Linked DNA regions of Homo sapiens. The protein of the gene in region 1 purifies or fractionates together with the protein of each later gene. This does not show direct contact. Each region holds a gene or a part of one and is shown in the gene's direction. Other genes may lie near its edges.

Region 1 (5,171 bases):
TGTCTTTATTGTTTCAGATTGTTCTAAGGTGGGTGAGGAGCTGGGGAGGCTCTGGAAGTATTGAAATAACTTGGGGGTTCAGTAATACAGCTTGTGGCTCTCCTCGGCCCTGAGCTACCTATAGGAATAACCACCATTGAGGTTGCACGTGAACTGCTGGCCCAGCCCTTTATGGGGGTTTCCTCCAGATCCCTGACTCCACACTTGATACCTTCTTATTTTAGGCCTCCTTTCACAAGGCAGTGGGAATGAGAGGCAGGTGTGACTGGACGGAGGCGGTTTTATTTGTCTGTTGCCGAGGTTGTTAGCATGCTGAATGGAGGCGCACAGAAGATAGAAAATGGACTCTCCAGGTTGCTCTCATCAGGTAGTTTGGGGTCTGGAGCTCATTAAGGGCAGGAGCCCTGTCTTCCCCACCTTCCATACCCCACACAGCACCTGGCTCCTGGTGGGGCTTCAGCTAATGTCTGTTCAGTTATGTGTGTTGAACGAAACTGTCACATCGTCCTGATCTCTCATGACCACTCTTGTGCAAATATGTCAAATAGTTTGTGACCTTTCATATTGCTGTGTGAGAACAAATAATGTTTCTGTGCCAGCCCTGTTCATCAGGGATGTTTAAGACCTCTGTCTCCTATACACTTCAGTTGAATATTCACTTAGGTGACTTGCAGAGGGAATTATTCTCCTTTGTCACTTTGTGCCTTTCTCTTCGTATTAACAATGGGTAGCTGTAGAGGTTCAGGAAGCAATACAGCAAGTCCTGTAATTAGTGTGGCCTTTTCCTTGCCAGCCCTAATGGCAAATGCAGTAAGTTACTTTCCTCACTATGGATTTATTGTTCATTCTGCTTGCAGTTTCTGACCATTTATGTTGATCTTAAGGGTGCTGTGAGGAGTGCAGTGATCTCGTTGCAGTAAGAATCTGTTATCCAGTTGTATGACTCTGAATTGTGAGTTATAGACTTGTGTGGAACAGATGTGTTACTGAGTGATTGTAGAGCTTGAAGACTTTTTTCTTTTTCCTACACTTTGGAAGTGATGTGAGTCAGTAATGATGAGACTTAATAAAATACAAGCACTTTACCTGTACTACGTAATTTAATCAACCAGTGGTCTGTTGAAGATGGTCAGCAGAGTTGGTGAAGTTTGTTTGGTACCATTGTAGGGGTCAGATGCTGATTTCAGTATGAGAATAAATAGCTTGTACATTCTTGGAGTATTTACTTACCCTGTATGTTTACATCCTAAATGTGTGGAGGGTGCTCTGGTGTAAAGATGCCCTCTGTGCCTGTGCTCATTTAGGCCCTGCTGTGGAGGGTGCTGTGGTGTAAAGATGCCCTCTGCCTGTGCTCGGTTAGGCCCTGGGCTGTGGAGGGTGCTCTGGTGTAAAGATGCCTTCTGCCTGTGCTCGGTTAGGCCCTGGGCTTCGTTGTCCTTCCGTGCAGCGGGCACTGCCTTTGGCGATGGTATGTGCAGCTGCTGACATGGCTCATGTACCTTGCTCCTGTGGACAGTGATGGCTGTGGTCTGTCACGCCCTTGGCTTGGGGGCAGTGTAGTCAGGAGAAGGGAAACGAGGAAATGGTCCTGCTGTTGTCACTGTCAAGCCAGCCATGAGAACATTCTGGCTTTTAACATGTCCTCCTGAACCAGTCAAGCTCTAATGCACCCTCACATGCCCAGCACAATGCCCAGTGCAGAGAATGTGAGGTTTTAAATTTGAGCAGGAGACTTTAGCGGTATGTATTCATTTGTACATTTAACTTCAGCTTGGAAAAGTTTACACTGAATTTCATCTTGTTTTTTCTTACAGTGAAAAATGTGAGGTTTTACAATATTCTGCAAGGGAAGCTCAAGATTCAAAAAAGGTAAGAAAATGGTTGAAAAGTTGAAAGTTATTCCTACATTTGATTCATGTGTAAGGTTCTTGCAAATCAGATCGTCAGTTAGATTCCCACTGGTCTTAACAAACATCACTGTTTTATCACCTGAAAGCAGTGCCAGTCAAACCCATCATCACACTCCCCTGGCCATGAGGTTTCGAGTTTCTTTCAAGTAATTCGGTTTCTACGATCTGAAAATTACAGATGTCACAGAATCTTGGGTCATCCACTCTACCATTTTTATTAAAGAGATGGAAAATTGAAAGTTGGATTAGTTAATGGGAAAGATTTACATGTAAAGATAACAGTTTTCCTTAAATTCGTGTGTTTTGTGAAAGTCTAGTAAATCTTGGTGTAGTTTTCAGGGAACTTTATGAATAACAGCCAGACAAACATTAAAACATCTGAAGAAGAATAACGAAAGAACATTTGCCCTCTCACATACAAAAACAAACTATACGATTGTAGTAAGGAGAGCATTGTGGTGTTAATGCAAGAATTAATAAAGAGCTTAATGGAACAAAACAAGAGTCCAGAAACATGTATGCACCTGTGTGTAAGTATCTTCAGTTTGGCAAAGTTAGTTCCTTAAAGGATAATTACAAAAATGAAGTAGAGGAAAATTGTTTCCTAAATGGTACTGAGGCAACTGAGCATCCATTTGTTAAAAAACAAGTTTTTTATTTTGTATTTTATATATTAAGCATAAATTACTAAAAACAAAACGAGGTGTAACAATTCTAGAAGAAAATACAAGTTTCAGGATCTGGTCTTGAAGTGTGAGTGGTGCCCGTGTAACAGAGAAGCTTTGCATAGTTGGCTGCTGGGGTGACAAGCGTGCTTCAGTTGCCTCTCAGCATTGGGAGGGTGAGAAGAGGGAGGTTGACTGAGCTTTTCTGCACAGAGAGTAGCATTCTCCTTGCAGAGGGAAGCCCTGCATTCTCGCCCAGGCTCTCCTACTACCAGTTGTAAAGTTCTTTTGAGACCTTGGTTTATTCTACTCAGACTGATTAAATTACATTTCATTTTCTCCTCCGCCTTCTGTTTCTGTTTTTAGAGTATTTATATACCTTTGAGAGACTGTTTAGGTGGCATGTATCTTAGAAGAAGAATAATACGTTTTGTCTCCAATACTATGTTATTTGAGTTCATTTTTGAATTTACTCAAATTCCCGAAACTAAAGAGGGTTCATGAGTTTGGCCTGTTGTGAGGAGAGAATGCGTATGGAAAGATTACTCCTCTGGAAAGTCAGACTGTGTAGACAGCCAGCCTTGAGGCCGGGCACCTAGATCATTAGGTCTCTCTAGGTAATGGGTTTGTATCTTATTCTTTTGTCATTTTGAGGGGCTAGGTTTTGCCTTTTAGAAGGAACTTACTTGGGAAGAAATGAGTAGCCTGTCCTGAAGGCTGATTTTTCTCCCCTAGTCTTCATTGTTCTCACCTGTCCTTTTCTCCCAGCCTGCAGGGTAATGTCTGTCCTACTTGATCCCTGAGTGTTAGCTAGGCAAGGCCATACTGTGATGCAACACTCAACCCCACCATTTCATTAAAGGTCAGCCAGCTTCACTTCCATTCTGACTGTTACGGTGTGATTCTTCCTGCCAAATATTCATAGCTTATAATGTATTAAAATGTTACCTCTTGGCCAGCCATGGTGGCTCACGTCTATAATCCCAGCACTTTGGGAGGCTGAGGCAGGAGGATCGCTTGAGCCCAGGAGTTTGAGACCAGCCTGGGCAACGTGGTGAGACCCCATCTCTACTAAAAATACAAACATCAGCCAGGTGTGGTGGCATATGCCTGTAGTCCCAGCAACTCGGGAGGCTGAGGTGCTGAGGTGGGAGGATTGCTTGAGCCCAGCAGGCCAAGGCTGCAGTGTGCTGTGATTGTGCCACTACTTTCCAGCCTGGATGATAGAGCCGGACCCTGTCTCAAAAAAAAGTTATTTCATTTAAATTTCTAAAATGGGGTTCTCTGTTTAAATTGGAATTTTTCCTGTCTTAGGTGGTAGAGGACATTGAATACCTGAAGTTCGATAAAGGGCCGTGGCTCAAGCAGGACAATCGCACTTTATACCACCTGCGATTACTGTAAGTGCATCTGTGTGGGGGCTGCTGCATGTCTGGGGTCTACTTGCATGATGGGGAAACTTAGGGAAGTTTGAAATAATTATGTTTCAAGTTAGGTGTTAGCAGCACCAACCCAATACTTAGAGGTATTTTTTCTTCCAAACAGCTCCTGAATCCCCTGGTCTGATACTTAATTTATTGAGTGCCATTATTAATTTAACAGGCATTTTGCTTCCACTATGTGCAACACCGTTCCAGATTTAAGAGATATAGTGTCAGATAAAATTCTTGATGTCTTTGAAAATGTGTTTTAGTAGGTGAGACAGAGTAAACAAATAGATAAAACTGCGTCAGGTCACAAAGGCCAGGGAGAGAAGTAACCCTGAGTAACAGGGTGGTGAGTAGCTAGGGGTGACAAAGGGCCTCTCTCGGGATGAGGCCTAAGTGAGGCCAGGATTGGGTCCTGTGGGCCGTGGGGTGAGCAGAGGGCAGGGGCTTGGCAGGTGCAGAGGCTCTTCAGGCAGGAGTGTGGTGGGAAGGTGCGCCCAGCAGCCAAGCCAGTGTGGCCAGAAAAAGTGTGGGGAGGGGAGGCCACAGCGGAATGGAGCAGGACTAGGAGAGGAGGCCATGGCGGAATGGGGCAGGACTAGGAGGGGAGGCCGCGGTGGAAGAGGGCAGGACTAGGAAGGGAGGCCACTGCAGAAGGGGGTAGGACTAGGAGGGGAGGCCACAGCAGAAGGCGGATAGGTCTTGGTGCGTTTGGTGGGTTTTCTTCTGATGAGATGAGATGCCGTTTGGGGGTTTGAAGCAGAGGAGTAATACGATATGACTTATATCCATTCAGCTATTGTGTGGATTCTTTGGTATCTATTAAATGAAAAACAAAAACCATACCGATTAGGTAAGGTTGAAAAAAGCTGTCTTCATCTGCACCACTCTATTGAAACTGCTCCTGCCAAGGAGACGGCCTCGCCATTCCAGATGCGGCAGACCCTTGTCTGTCTTCATGCTGCTCCCTGGCCCTGGAAGCAGCACCGCTGCCCCTCTTCTCCACTCCCTTCTCCTGGTTCCATGCCCTCCTCCTCCCCCACTCTCTCACTCCTCCACCAGCTGCTGCCTTCTGGGGCCGGGCTCTCTTTTTCTGGTTCCTTCTGCCTGCTGCTGGGCTCTGGCAGGCACAGTGACCCCGGGCAGTGTCTCGTCCGTTGAATTCAGTT
Region 2 (4,852 bases), on another chromosome or scaffold:
GTGTTGGGGGGACTTAACTAGGTAGGTTGCACATTTGAGGCTATCCACTCAACTAACAGACAGTTCCAGGCTTTGCTGAGTCAACACCTTTCACAGAAGAAAGACCATCATATATTTTATCCCACTTGGTGGCAGCTTACAATAAAACACATGCAGAGAAAATGCTTAAATATAAAAGTTCAACAGCACTATATAAAAGGAAGGGTTAATTATACTAGGAATCAGATATAAAATAATTACTGAGCATGCTCTTAGCTCTGAGCTTCCTGGAAGCCAAGCAAAAATAGAACCATGATAGTTCAAGGCTGCTACATATTGATGCATGTAGCTTCAATTGTGAAGATGGTAGCATCCCCCTACCCCATTTAACCTCTCACCTTTCTCTTTTGTTTTATAGTTCGGCCTGATCTAATTAGTTCAATTTGGATGCTTCCTTGAGTTTTTTTTGTAACATATTTTATATAAAGAAGTCAGTTAGTGACAAATAAGCAGTTTGAGGAGAAATCTGTTAATATTTATTTTGTAGCCATCAGATTTACTTCACATAGAAAGGTCTTTGGGTTGGGTTTGAACTTCCAAACTCTCAAAGGTAAATGCCACATTAACCTTTCATTAACCAAATTCTTACACCAAGCTGATAGATTTGGGATGTCCTTTTTACTTCTATCTTCCATAATATTCTAAAATTATTTTCCCTTGTTTTGTTCCTATCCTACTTCCTCTTAGTCTACTTTGTTGACTTCATTAAAAAACAAAAAACCAGTTGTTGGATACTTGAGCTAAACTGCCTTAAAGAATCTGCAGATTTTATTTTATTTTTTTTCTCTCAAGAGGGTAAAAGGAAGAGAGCTACAATTTCTAAGAAGCCTGGCTTGGCTGTCTGAGTCTGGCCCCCAGGCAGATTAGGCCAAGGTTTTGGCCAAGTGAAATTGCCAATTTTCTAAAAGAAAGGGCTAGCACATTGCTCATTAGAGCATTCTGATTTTGTCTGCGCAATCTTTTTGCTACCCCGCAATTTCCTGTTGGTTATAAATGAAACCTTTCTAGCTGTTAATGCAGCCTGTGAATTTTTTTAAAAGCATGTAATTAATCATAGGAGGTTGGGGGGATTCACTAAGCCTGAGTTACATGGGAGAAGCTGGACAAGGCACTAGGACCTAGAAGGCATCTATCCACCCTGGCAGGAATTTCTTGCTTGGAGCTCAGACAACAAAGGCATAGAGAGATTGGTTTTCTTTCTCTCAGCATCTCCACCCAACCAGCAGAAAACCGGTGAGTGGGGCTTTTAAGTGATTTTCAAGAAGAATGTAACAGATGTCAAACGGGAAAAGCACAAGGCAAAGCCTGCTCTCTCTGTCTCTCTGTCTCCTCTTCTCCTTTTTTGCCTTATTCTATCCGATTTTTTCCCTAAGCTTCTACCTGGGATTTTCCTTTGGAAAAGTGAGTTTGATGTTCCTTTGTTTTCACTGTGATGTTAATTTAGAATAATACTACCTCTGATCCTAAAGCAAAGCAAAGCCTTACTGGCATGCCTGGGGAAATGTTTGCTGCTTGCCTTGAGGAGGTGGGGTCTCTTACCACTGCAGGTTGTCTGACAGAGACAATGCTGAGCTCAGCATAGGTCATGGTGACATTGGAAAAAAGGCGGAATTGAGCCTGGCAGACCCATTAGGCACCAGTCTTTCTTATCTCCTGTCCTCCTGGTCCCTTGCAAATATATTGATGTGGCAGTGTGTAGCAGCTGAGCCCTGCTTGCTTTGTGAGTCCTTTTATCCCCATCTGTGAGATGCATGTTAATAGTTTGGCTCGTAGGATGTCACTACATTTGCTAGCATTTGTGGCTTCAGTTGTATTGGGTTTCATGTTTTGATTGTTTGGGGTTCTTGGTGGGGGAGGGGGTTCAACAGAAGGGAGAAAAGCAAAGCCTGACAAATGACCATCTTTTCTCAGCTAATGCACCTGGGCAATATACAAGTTTGGGGTGAATTGCCTGCTGTGAGGGTAAATGTCACTTCAATTAAGGTAGAAACCCAGAACAATGAAAGGTGTGCTTCCTTCTAAAGGTCCCGTATGCTGTTCGGAGAGTCATTTGTGAATCTTTCAACAATTAAATTATTCCATTAAGAGGTGTTGCTGCATCAGTGGGGAGGGGGTGGAGCACCTGGGGGGGAAAAAAAAGGATTTTGTGAACAAATGGAACCGGGGGAAGACAGAGCTAGTAACTTGTTAAATAACTTATTTTTCTAATCCTTTTTCCCCCCAGCTTATTTCTTATGAATGTCGGATAGCTGCACCAGCTTGGTGGGGAAAGGGTTTGATGAATAGCACAAAGACACTGGCTGTTCCCTGGAGGCTGTCCCTTTAAAGGAGAATCTTAGTTTATTCTGGGGGGAGGGGATGCACACATTAGAGTAGGAAAGAGGGCTTGGAATAAAATGAAAACACTCCCCCTTCATAGTCATTGTACTGAAATGCAAAGACTGCTTCCTAAGCTGGAGATGCTAACCTTGGGTAGCTCCTTCTGTTCTCTTCAAGGGGAATTTTGTCAGGCTATGGATTCATTTACAACTGTTAGTCATGTGGGCATGTGTGAGGAAACAGATGCCAGTTTTAATGTATTTAGCCCGAAGTTCCAATTTGATAGGAGCCACTGTCAGTAAGTCTCAGGATTTTCAGCTATTTCAAAATCTCCCCTTCTCCTCTGTCTGGAACAGTGCCAAGAGTGCCTCCCTCTCTATCTCTTACTCCCAACCCCCACAACCACCAGCACCCCCGCCCAGCCCCTCCTTCTTCTCTATTAAGATCAATATTCCTGCAGGTCAGGGGCAAGCAGCAGATGGGTCACAGGCTTTTTTCAACCAGTTCTTTTCACAAGCAGCAGATTGCAGATCTGGATCTGGCTAATATTTAAAATCCCTTCTTTTTTCCTTCTCCTTGTCCCTTTTTGTTTTTGCCTCTCTTCACCCCCATCCCTTTCTCCCACGCTCAGGTCTCTGAGGTTCCACCAAAATATGGAACTTGATTTTGGACACTTTGACGAAAGAGATAAGACATCCAGGAACATGCGAGGCTCCCGGATGAATGGGTTGCCTAGCCCCACTCACAGCGCCCACTGTAGCTTCTACCGAACCAGAACCTTGCAGGCACTGAGTAATGAGAAGAAAGCCAAGAAGGTACGTTTCTACCGCAATGGGGACCGCTACTTCAAGGGGATTGTGTACGCTGTGTCCTCTGACCGTTTTCGCAGCTTTGACGCCTTGCTGGCTGACCTGACGCGATCTCTGTCTGACAACATCAACCTGCCTCAGGGAGTGCGTTACATTTACACCATTGATGGATCCAGGAAGATCGGAAGCATGGATGAACTGGAGGAAGGTAATTTAAATAGTGGGTGGTGGCCGTTGGTGGGAGGTGGCATCATTGGTTATGGTTACATTCTTCGGTTGCTTTGAAAAAAAATTAGGCAATGTATTTTTCAAAACACCGGGTTGATTGATGCTCAAATTTCTAATGCTATAGACATCAACAGAACCATTAGCAATCACCCTTCAGTCTCTGCTGAGGTTGAAGTGTGAATGGTGGTGATCATGCATTGTGCTTATCTGCCAGGGTATAAAAAGGAAAATCTTAATTGTAGCATTTACTCTAGATTTTGTTCATAATTAACTCTGAGTAGCACTATTGAGGCAGAGCATGAAATCATTAAGGGTATAACGAGGAAGGACATTTGGTTGGGTTAACAGAGAAAATATTATGCCCAAATTTTCTTTGAACTGCTGAGAAATTATTTGTGAATTGCAACTCATTGGAAATATGCACCCTAAGAGCAGGATTTCCTGGACATATTCACAGAGGATTATTCTTTTAGGTAAGTGGTCGCGGCTCAGCTGTTGCTTCTAAAAAGCCTACTTTAGGGTGTGTCCCTAAGGCTGAGGTCATTGGGAGAAATACCAAAGAAAGCTGTAGGTATGTCTGGTATTTTAATAAAGACCATTCCTATTAGAATAGGATTTGACTCACTATACCTAAATCCCCTTATAACCTCTATAGATTTTTGTGTGGCAACTAAATTTTCTGAGTAGATTGCCAAAAATCCCAACAACCTGTGTACCCACCTCAAAATAGGGAAAATCCTACCTCTTACCAGAACTTACCCAGCCATAGAGTCTTCTTTGTGGTCATTTAGAAAATAGATCTTGGGTCACATTTTTAACATTCTATATTATCAAATCAATTATACTGAGGATGCTTCCCTATTTTAAAATTGGTGGATATAACACATGTGATCAATTTGACCTAATACAGTGCTTTAAAGAACAGCTTCAAGGAGTGGTGATAATTAATGTGTTCCTCCTCAAGCCCCTCCCCCATTATCCAGCCCTCTCTCCTCACTCCTTTCATTCCCTGAGCAAAGGTGAGTTTAAAGCAGGCAGATCTCTAGAGTAACCAAATTATGAAATAACTAACAAGGAAGGAGAAATAGCACCTTAAAGAATTTGATGTGGGAAAAACCTGCCTCTGCTTCACTGCTTCTAAGTTTCTTGTGTTCCTAGACAAAGGAGAATGAGGGTTTCCTTTGTACAAGACACTAGTTCTCTCAAATAGCTGCTGTTGCCCAAGTTGTCAGGCAAAGTGATTGGGACCAGTTACTTATAAAAGACAGTGTCCATATTGTTGCTGCATCTGAGTCTCAAGGTTCAAGTTCGACTTCCTTCCTTTCTTTCTTTCTTTCTTTCTTTCTTTCTTTCTTTCTTTCTTTCTTTCTTTCTTTCTTTCTCTTTTCTTTCTTTCTTTCTTCCTTTCTTTCTTTCACAGAGTTTCGCTCTTGTTGCCCAGGCTGGAGTGCAATGGC
Region 3 (4,335 bases), about 200 Mb from region 1:
GGCCAGGCATGGTGGCTCAATCCTAGCACTTTGAGAGGCCAAGGTGGGCAGATCACAAGGTCAGGAGTTCGAGACCAGCCTGACCAACATAGTGAAACCCCGTCTCTAGTAAAAATACAAAAATTAGCTGGGCATGGTGGTGTGCATCTGTAATCCAGCTACTCAGGAGGCTGAGGCAGGGAATCGCTTGAACCCAGGAGGCAGAGGTTGCAGTGATTGCTGCAGTGATTGATTGCAGAGCTGAGATTGCGCCATTGCACTCCAGCCTGGTGACAGAGCGAGACTCCGTCTCAAAAAAAAAAAAAAGTTTAGGCTGGGCAAAGTGGCTCATGCCTGTAATCGTAGCACTTTGGGGGGCCAAGGTGGGAGGATTGCTTGAGGCCAAGAGTTCAAGACCAACCTGGCCAACAAAGCAAGACCTCGTCTCTTTTTATATTAAAAAAAAAAAAAGCAGAAGGCATAAAGCAAAAGATTAATATTTCATTTCTTACATTAAAATTAAAAACTTCTTGCTCTACAAATAAACTAGCAGCTTTTTGTTCTTCAGAGACCCCATTAAGAGAGTGATTAGACAAGCCACAGAGTGGGAGAAGTTATTTGTAACACGTAACCAACAGAGAACTAGTAGTTAGAATTATTTAAATAACTCCTTTAGGTCAGTAAGAAGACAGATAACTTGAGAAAAATCAGGCCAAAGATGTGAACAAGTCCATTCATAAAAGAGGAAAATACAAACGGCTAAAAAAGCAAAAAAAAAAAAAAAAAGATTAGTCACATTGGTAGTCAGGAAGATGAAAATTAAAATCACAATGAGATACTACTGTAACCCTTGCCAGATTAGAAAAAAAAGCTAAAAGTCTGTCAACACCAAGTATTGGTGAAGATGTGGATTTGTGGATCAATGGCAACTCTCATATACTGCTTGTAAAACTATAATTTAGTACATCCTTTTTTCTTTCTCTTTTTTTTTTTTTTTTTTGAGACACAGTCTCACTTTGTCACTCAGGCTGGAGTGCAGTGGTACGATCTTGGCTCACTGCAACCTCTGCCTCCCAGGTTCAGGCGATTCTTGTCCCTCAGCCTCTTGAGTAGCAGGGATAATAGGCGTGGATCACTACACCCGGCTAATTTTTTTATTTTTAGTAGAGAAGGGGTTTTACCATGCTGGCCAGGCTGATCTTGAACTCTTGGCTTGAAGTGGTCCGCCTGCCTCGGCCTCCCAGAGTGCTGGGATTACAGGCATGAGCCCCCGTACCCAGCCTTGTACAACCTTTTTGAAAAGCTATTGGCCATTATCTATTAACATCAAAGTTTCTTATATTGTATGACCCAGCAATTTTACTGCTAGTGATATACCCTAGAGAAACTAGTGTATATGTGTACCAGGAGACACATACAAGAAGATAGCAGCATTGTATAAAATAGCGGAAAATAACAGCACAAATGCCCATCGGGGGGTAAATGAATCAGTTAATTGTGGTATAGTCATACAGTGGAATACGAAGTACTGCAAGAATGCGTGAAATCACAGTGGAATATAACAGTGTTCAACATGAAACAAGATGTGTGAAAGTAGCAGTTTGCAAGAGTTCGTATCATATGATTGTATTTATATAAAATCCAAAAAATAGTCAACATTAAACAATATGTATTTGGTGATAAAAATATATTTAGTAACATTTATAAAGAAAAGTCAGGGTGTTATTAACTCAAGATTCAGAATGGTGGTGACTTCCAAGGGTAGAGGGAGTCCACAGGGGCTTTGGAGATAAGGTCATGTCCCATTTATGGTAGATATTCTCTCTTGTATCATTGTTTCTATCAGTCTACGTACTATTTTATGAAAACATTAAAAAGGAGGACAGTTGTTTATAGTACCTGATAAGTAATAGTATTTATTAAACTTTTGTAGTTTTTAGTATTTTGGAACTCATTAGTGTTTTTGAGTTTATTTTATATGTACTTGACAATTCAATGTAAAAAACAAACATGGCTGGGCGCAGTGGCCCATGCCTGTAATCGCAGCACTTTGGGAGTTCGAGGCTCCCAAAGTTCAAGATCAGCTTGGGCAATACGGTGAAACTCCATCTCTACAAAAAATACAAAAATTACCCAGTCGTGGTAGCATGCGTCTGTGGTCGAAGCTAGTTGAGGGGCTGAGATGGGAGGATTGCTTGAGCCCAGGAGGTTGAGGCTGCAGTGAGCTGTGATTATGCCTCTGAGTAACAAAGTGAGACCCTGTCTCAAAAAAAAAACCAAAAAACACCAACACATACTCAATATAAATTTAAATTTCTTGATGCTTTATGGTTTTTGCTTTAAATTAGAAATTAAAGGATTTAAAAAATATATAAAATATATAAACATATGACAAATAAGAATCTTGATTATTTGGGTGAAGAAAGAAAACAAAATCACGAATTTAAATTTCCAGGGCTCTATTTTATGTTTTTCAGCAAGGTCATTTGAATATAAAATATTTAATAAGGACCTCAAATCATATTCTCTTGTTCAAGTACTTTAAAAGTTGATTCCAGAGCCCTTAAAATGTATGAAGGATGCTTTTCCAGACTGAGTCATAAGAAGTCCTAAAAGCCAAAGAATTTAAAGGGTTGTAAAGCAAATAGCCAGAGAAGTGTCAGACCTGTTTTATTTTTGATGTTACCTTCTGAAGGAATTTCTCCTGGGAAGTTTTTCCATTTGTATTTCGATCTCAAAACTAAATTTGGAAAAATCATCTTGTTCATATTATCAGTCTGGATGTGCATATTCATATCTCAAAAGTATTAATTGGAGGCAGATCACCAGTAGAAATTAAATTCAAATGAAAAATAATGTTGATACACTTTATGCTTTTGCTATTGATTTTTTAGCCTTAAAAGATTGGTAAAATATTAGTATTTTCCTTTTTCCCTTGCATGTTTACAACAGTGAAAAAATGTGTAGCTAAATATAGATTGAAAATGTGGCAGACCCCCGAGTTAAGCAGTCAGGTTTTCAGTACCATTCAGATTTGGTTCTTTGAGGTTAGAGTTCTCATCATCTCAAAGATGAGATTACTTCCTAGACCTAGAGATGTTATCAAATCAAGGCTGTGTACATTTTATTTCCTTGGTCTTTTTTTAGACTCCATAATCTGAATCATTGTTTTTATCAGATGCCAAATCTTTTATTTTCATTTGTTAATCATAATTTATCATTAGGAAACCAAATTGTGCATTGTTCATTTCTTATTTAGATTATGCTTAATAACTAGTAGGTTAGGATTCTTATAGACTGCTGGAGAGTGGCTTGGGTAAGGAACACATCTCTCTGAAATATTACCTCTATTGTGACATGACTAAATCATTGATGTAAATGATTAGGAAACTTAAAACCTACTTAACACATTGTATTTTTTTTTCTTCTTTTGGTATTTAGGTGTTCACTCAACTTGGATCTGTGCTGAAAAATTGTGACATTTCAGTACATCTGGTAGAGGTAAGCCAAAAATTAAGTGAGATTCAAGCATTGACACTGACTAAAGAGAAGGTCCCGTTAGAGCGAAATGCTGGATCCCCAGTGTATATGAAAGGTGTCACTAAGTCTGGGATTCCAATTTCCTGGTACCGAGATCTGCACGATGTTCCAAAAGGTAATTACCTTTATGTGGATTAATGAAAGAATTTTGATCACAACCCTCACAGTATTGATGGGACTGTAACTTTTTACAGCAATATAATAGATTGAGTTACTGCTGCCAAGTCCCTTATCCATAGAGAGTAGCCTACTTTTTTCTAGAAAAGAGCATCTTAATAGAAAATAAAGTTGCCTGACATTAAGTAGTAGTTTATTTCATGAAGCTTTGTAAAATCCCAAACAAAATGTAAATCTCCTTTGTACTTTTGAGTATTTCCCTATAGCTAGGGTTGTACCGATGACGGAGCAGCCCAAGGCAGCTGGGGCTGATGGAAGCAGTGTTAGTAGGTGGGTTTAGTTCAGTTATAGAGTCTTTTAAAAAATCCTTACTTGCCTAAAGACAAGCAAGGTGTGGGGGAAAATCCCTGTACTAGTCAGGAATACTGACTAGTATTGACTAGTTTGAGTCTTGACTCAAAGCCAAAGTGGGGGTACGATCTTGGGTAAGGGATCTCAAGCCATTCCTGCCTCAGCCTTCTCAGGCTGAGAAGCCCGATTTTATGAAATCAAATTCCCTTCCAGCTAACAACTCTGACTTCTAATTTCTTTCAAGCCTTGTGATGAATAAAAGCTTTAACTGCTATTTCAGGTATTTCCATTTTCTGACCCCATTTATGTGTAAAATAAGAATAGTAATAATTGTTCTATGTTCTGCAG
Region 4 (4,335 bases), on another chromosome or scaffold:
ATGTTTTTAAGAGTTTAAATATATTATTTTCATTTTAATAATAATTTCTATTCATAGTTTTTTTTGTAGAATGTGAGACTGCATGAATAAATGTAGTCTCTTTGAACCCATAAATTTAGTACAAAACCTACTAACATTATACCATGAATATATTTTCTTTGTAAACCTGGCTTATCAAGGAAATAATTTAAATCTGTGAGTAGATAATGTTAAAGTAAACTGGTTTAAAAGTGACTAATTCAATAAGTTAGTATCAAATATATAAAAATGATCTAAATTTGACTTTTAGAAAAAATTCACATTGATTTTTGTATATAAATAACATCTATACTTTCTCAGAAATGCTTTTCTTTAAGCTATGGATTCTCTGTATTCTTCAATTTATGAAATTGAAAAATATAATATGAAGTCATACAAGGTGTTTATTTCTAGGAAGATGGATGTTTTGAAAGCTACCGCAGAACAAATTTCTTCTCAAACTGGAAATAAGGTACATTAAAAATCAGTTATTTAATTTAGATTTAGGAATTATAACATGTTCAAATAATTTGTTCATGCGTTTGGTTTAAGAAAGCTGGAAAATGTCATATTCTTTTTGTTATTTTGCAGGTTCATGCAATTCAGTGTGATGTGAGGGATCCTGATATGGTTCAAAACACTGTGTCAGAACTGATCAAAGTTGCAGGACATCCTAATGTAAGTGTAGCAATGATGAAGCCAAAGTGCAAGACACTTGATGTTGATAACACCCACCAACATGTACAAAGGAAATAAAATATTGATACTGATGTAGGACAGGCAAGCCCGAATCTGGGGCTTAGCCTGGGAAGGTTCTTGGCTTCACCCAGGAAAGAATTCAAGGATGAGCCGGTGGTAGAAGAGAACAGCTTTATTGAAGCAGCAGCAGTGGAATGGATCTGTGACTGTTCCTTCAGAGCAGGGCAACACCATAGTCAATGTGCTGGGCATAGCAGTTGAGAGGCAGTTTTATAGTCGTATTTATACCCACTTTTAATTGCCTGCAAATTAATTAGGTTTATGCAGAAATTTCTAGAAAAGGGTTGGTAACTTCTGAGTTATCAGTTCGTTGCCATGGAAAGGGCAGTAACTTGCTGACATTGCCATGGCAATGGTAAACAAACATGGTGCATTGGTGGGTATGTCTAAAGAGGGGGTGCTTTCATCCAGGACCTGGTTTAACTAGTCCTCATTCTGGTCCTGTGATGGAACTCTGCCTCCAGAGTTAGGCCTCCTCCTACCTCAATATGAGCAAGTGCTGTGTTGAGAAGCACCTATTTTCCATCCCTAGGAAAATGCCAGTTCTGCTAAAGCAAAGAACAGAGTAGGAAGACTGCTACACAACTTCCTTTCAGGAATACTTAAAGAATCCATTTATGATTGATCAGAAAACAAACTTGATTTCACTTTATTTAATAAGATTATGAAATAACAAGAGCAGTTATCCAAGAGTACAGCATTGAGTTTAAATGATTGATGCTTTTTGCTTCTCCTAGTAACTTTTGATTGTCTTCCTCAGTGGAGGAGAACGATATAAACATGAAAAACTATAAGAAATTCAAAATTTCTCCTTTTAAGACCTGAAATATGCATGAATATTTTGCTGTTGCTTGGTACATTTATCGGAGAGAAGCCGTTTCTTCCAGTAGTCTCAAAGATAGCACTTTTCTATGTTAAAGGTATTTTCAGAACCAGTAACACTGAATCTCCTGTAGAACTAGCCAGAATCTTTACTGATGGTAAATAGATCATCAACCACAAGCTGCATTGGTTAAGTTAAACTAAAATGACACCAGAAACAAAAAGCCATTTCTTGAGATTCTTTGAAATAAAATGCAGTCACATGGTAAATATGTTTAATCTGTATTAATTTTCTTTTTTTTAACTTTTAAAATTTTATTCATTTATTTTGAGACAGAGTCTTGCTCTGTCACTCAGGTTGGAGTGCAAGTGGCACAATCACGGCTCAGTGGAGCCTTGACCTCCTGGGTTCAAGCGATACTCCCACCTCAGCCTCCCAAGTAGCTGGGAATACAGGCACGTGCCACCACACCCAGCTAATTTTTAAAACAAAATTTTTGTAGAGATGACGTCTCGCTTTGTTGCCCAGCCTGGTCTTGAACTCATCCCAAAGTGCTGGGATTACAGGCATGAGCCACTGCACTCAGCCTTAGTTTTCTTAATAAGAGAATCTACCCTAATTTAAAGACGGCTTAGGATTCTGAAATTTGGTAACTAACGTAGGAGGTTTTCACAGACTCAGACTACCAAATCTCATGGTATTGTTTCGTAGGTAGCTGTGGACTTCAACTTTATTGTATTATTTCTATTAATACATTTCAGAAAAAAAACCCTGCAGGGAAAATGTTTTTCCTCATCTAAAGTTTCTGTAACTTGCCTTGTTCATTTATTAGATTGTGATAAACAATGCAGCAGGGAATTTTATTTCTCCTACTGAAAGACTTTCTCCTAATGCTTGGAAAACCATAACTGACATAGTTCTAAATGGCACAGCCTTCGTGACACTAGAAATTGGAAAACAACTAATTAAAGCACAGAAAGGTATGTTTATTTGCTTTTCTCATATTTATTTGGCTTCTGTGTGTGCAAGGTTCTGTGGTAAGCTCTGTGATACTTTAAAAGTCAATGAGACAGTCTACACTTGTACAACTCACAGTGTAATGGAGAAAAATGATATTTAAATAATTATCATATGTTACAATTTGAGCAGTAATAAATATATGTTTCAAGTGCATTGGCAATCCAGAGACAGGAATGACTAACTCTCCCTAGGGTCAGTGATCAGGTTGAGGAACAAGATGCAACTTAAGCTGAAAGTTCAAAGATCTAGATGTGGAGAAAGAGGAGGGAAAGGACATGTGAATGTCAATGGATAGAGGCCTGGTGGAGAGGAGGACATAAGTACATAGGGAATGATGAAAACTTTGATGTCATTAGAGATGGGGAAAGGAATAGGAAATGATTTTGGGAAGGTGGGTTGGAGTGTAATTGGGAGAGTTCTCAATACCAAAATAAGGAGTTTAATGTTAATTCTGAAAGAAATAGGAAGTATTTTTGTATAGATTTCCATTGAAGGTGGAACAAAGAATGCGACTTGATTGGAAAGGTTAGTGACAACAAGATGGATGATAAAAGGAGTGCCATTCAGGAGGATTTGATTTTTCTTTTAGCAGGTGGCTAGATTGCATGGGAGATAAAGTAGAAGACATTTAGAAGACAATAAGATCAACAGGCCTTATTGATTTGATGAGAGTATTTTTAGATGGGATGAAGAGTCTGGATGATAATACCAATGAGATTAAGAACACTGGAGGGAAAATAGATTTAGAAAGAACTTACTAGGAGAACATTTTTGTTAGTATTATGAATGAATTACTTTATAAAAGTTCATATGTACATGGATAGCAAACATGTCTAATGTATATATGTGTGTATATTCATATATATCTAGAACCAGCGTACATTTATTCACCTGACAGACACTTACTAATGACTTTTGGGTAGCAGGCCCTATACTCATGCTCAAAGCACAGAGGTGGACAAGACCCTGTCCCTGAATAATTTGGGGAACTTGAAGGGTGCGGGTATTTTCTCAGAGAAGGTGGAGAGTATTTTAAACAAGGAAAATGAGGAAGCGTTCTCATGCTCCTCAGAGGATGTCCTTTGAGGGTTGAGGGGAGGAAAGAGGGCATGGAGCTGGCTAGGTTCCTCCCTCTGTTCAGAAACCTTTGCCTTATAAGGTTCAATTTCTTCTTTTGTGCAGCGCAGGTGATCCTAGAACCAGCTTGAGATACGCTGTAGGAACAGAGAGATGCTACAGAGGCACTAGCTCTGTGTGTGTGTGTGTCTGCTCACATACATACACTAATAGCTTCCATCCTTTCTATGCACTCATTGAAATTGAAATTCCTGGTTACTCATTTCCATGATGGCAGAATGGATGTGATTTATAATTGGATTTTGGATAAGTGTTTTATTTGATGTTTTTTTTTTCAGTGAGGGGCAGGAAGATGGATAAGAGTGGGAAGGGGGGACAGGGAAGAGTGTGACTCCTCTCTCTTCCCTTCTCTGTCCGAGGAACCTTGATCTCTGTATCTCTCCTGTGTCTCTGCCTCTGTCTGATTTTCTCTCGCCCTACCCCTTGCTGATATCTCCATTTCATTCTCTACTGCTCTGCCTCTGTCAGCTCCTCATTTTTGGTTCTCTGTTTCTCTCTTCATCTGTCTCTTTCGTTTCTTTGTCCTTCTTTGCCTCTTTGTCTCTTATTTCTTCCCTCGCTCATCTCTGTGACCCTCA

The links. Proteins that work in one complex are often made in the same cells at the same time.
Region 2: the proteins of NDUFA10 (region 1) and DCX purify together in Homo sapiens (affinity purification with mass spectrometry; 2 studies listed by BioGRID and IntAct, with this or other methods). This does not show direct contact.
Region 3: the proteins of NDUFA10 (region 1) and NDUFAF7 purify together in Homo sapiens (affinity purification with mass spectrometry; 3 studies listed by BioGRID and IntAct, with this or other methods). This does not show direct contact.
Region 4: the proteins of NDUFA10 (region 1) and DECR1 purify together in Homo sapiens (affinity purification with mass spectrometry; 3 studies listed by BioGRID and IntAct, with this or other methods). This does not show direct contact.

The regions. Positions count from the first base shown.
Region 1 is NC_000002.12:240,004,014-240,009,184, reverse strand, and holds part of NDUFA10 (NADH dehydrogenase [ubiquinone] 1 alpha subcomplex subunit 10, mitochondrial isoform 1 precursor), read left to right. Parts: intron 1-1,814; coding exon 1,815-1,869; intron 1,870-3,889; coding exon 3,890-3,975; intron 3,976-5,171. UniProt on the Homo sapiens protein: Accessory subunit of the mitochondrial membrane respiratory chain NADH dehydrogenase (Complex I), that is believed not to be involved in catalysis. Complex I functions in the transfer of electrons from NADH to the respiratory chain.
Region 2 is NC_000023.11:111,408,558-111,413,409, reverse strand, and holds the start of DCX (neuronal migration protein doublecortin), read left to right. Parts: upstream 1-1,217; 5' UTR 1,218-1,272; exon of another isoform or gene 1,273-1,440; intron 1,441-2,263; exon of another isoform or gene 2,264-2,435; coding exon of another isoform or gene 2,436-2,656; intron 2,657-2,989; coding exon of another isoform or gene 2,990-3,011; coding exon 3,012-3,375; intron 3,376-4,852. UniProt on the Homo sapiens protein: Microtubule-associated protein required for initial steps of neuronal dispersion and cortex lamination during cerebral cortex development. May act by competing with the putative neuronal protein kinase DCLK1 in binding to a target protein.
Region 3 is NC_000002.12:37,238,158-37,242,492, forward strand, and holds part of NDUFAF7 (protein arginine methyltransferase NDUFAF7, mitochondrial), read left to right. Parts: intron 1-3,420; coding exon 3,421-3,634; exon of another isoform or gene 3,635-4,267; intron 4,268-4,335. UniProt on the Homo sapiens protein: Arginine methyltransferase involved in the assembly or stability of mitochondrial NADH:ubiquinone oxidoreductase complex (complex I).
Region 4 is NC_000008.11:90,018,477-90,022,811, forward strand, and holds part of DECR1 (2,4-dienoyl-CoA reductase [(3E)-enoyl-CoA-producing], mitochondrial isoform 1 precursor), read left to right. Parts: intron 1-432; coding exon 433-490; intron 491-609; coding exon 610-696; intron 697-2,432; coding exon 2,433-2,580; intron 2,581-4,335. UniProt on the Homo sapiens protein: Auxiliary enzyme of beta-oxidation. It participates in the metabolism of unsaturated fatty enoyl-CoA esters having double bonds in both even- and odd-numbered positions in mitochondria.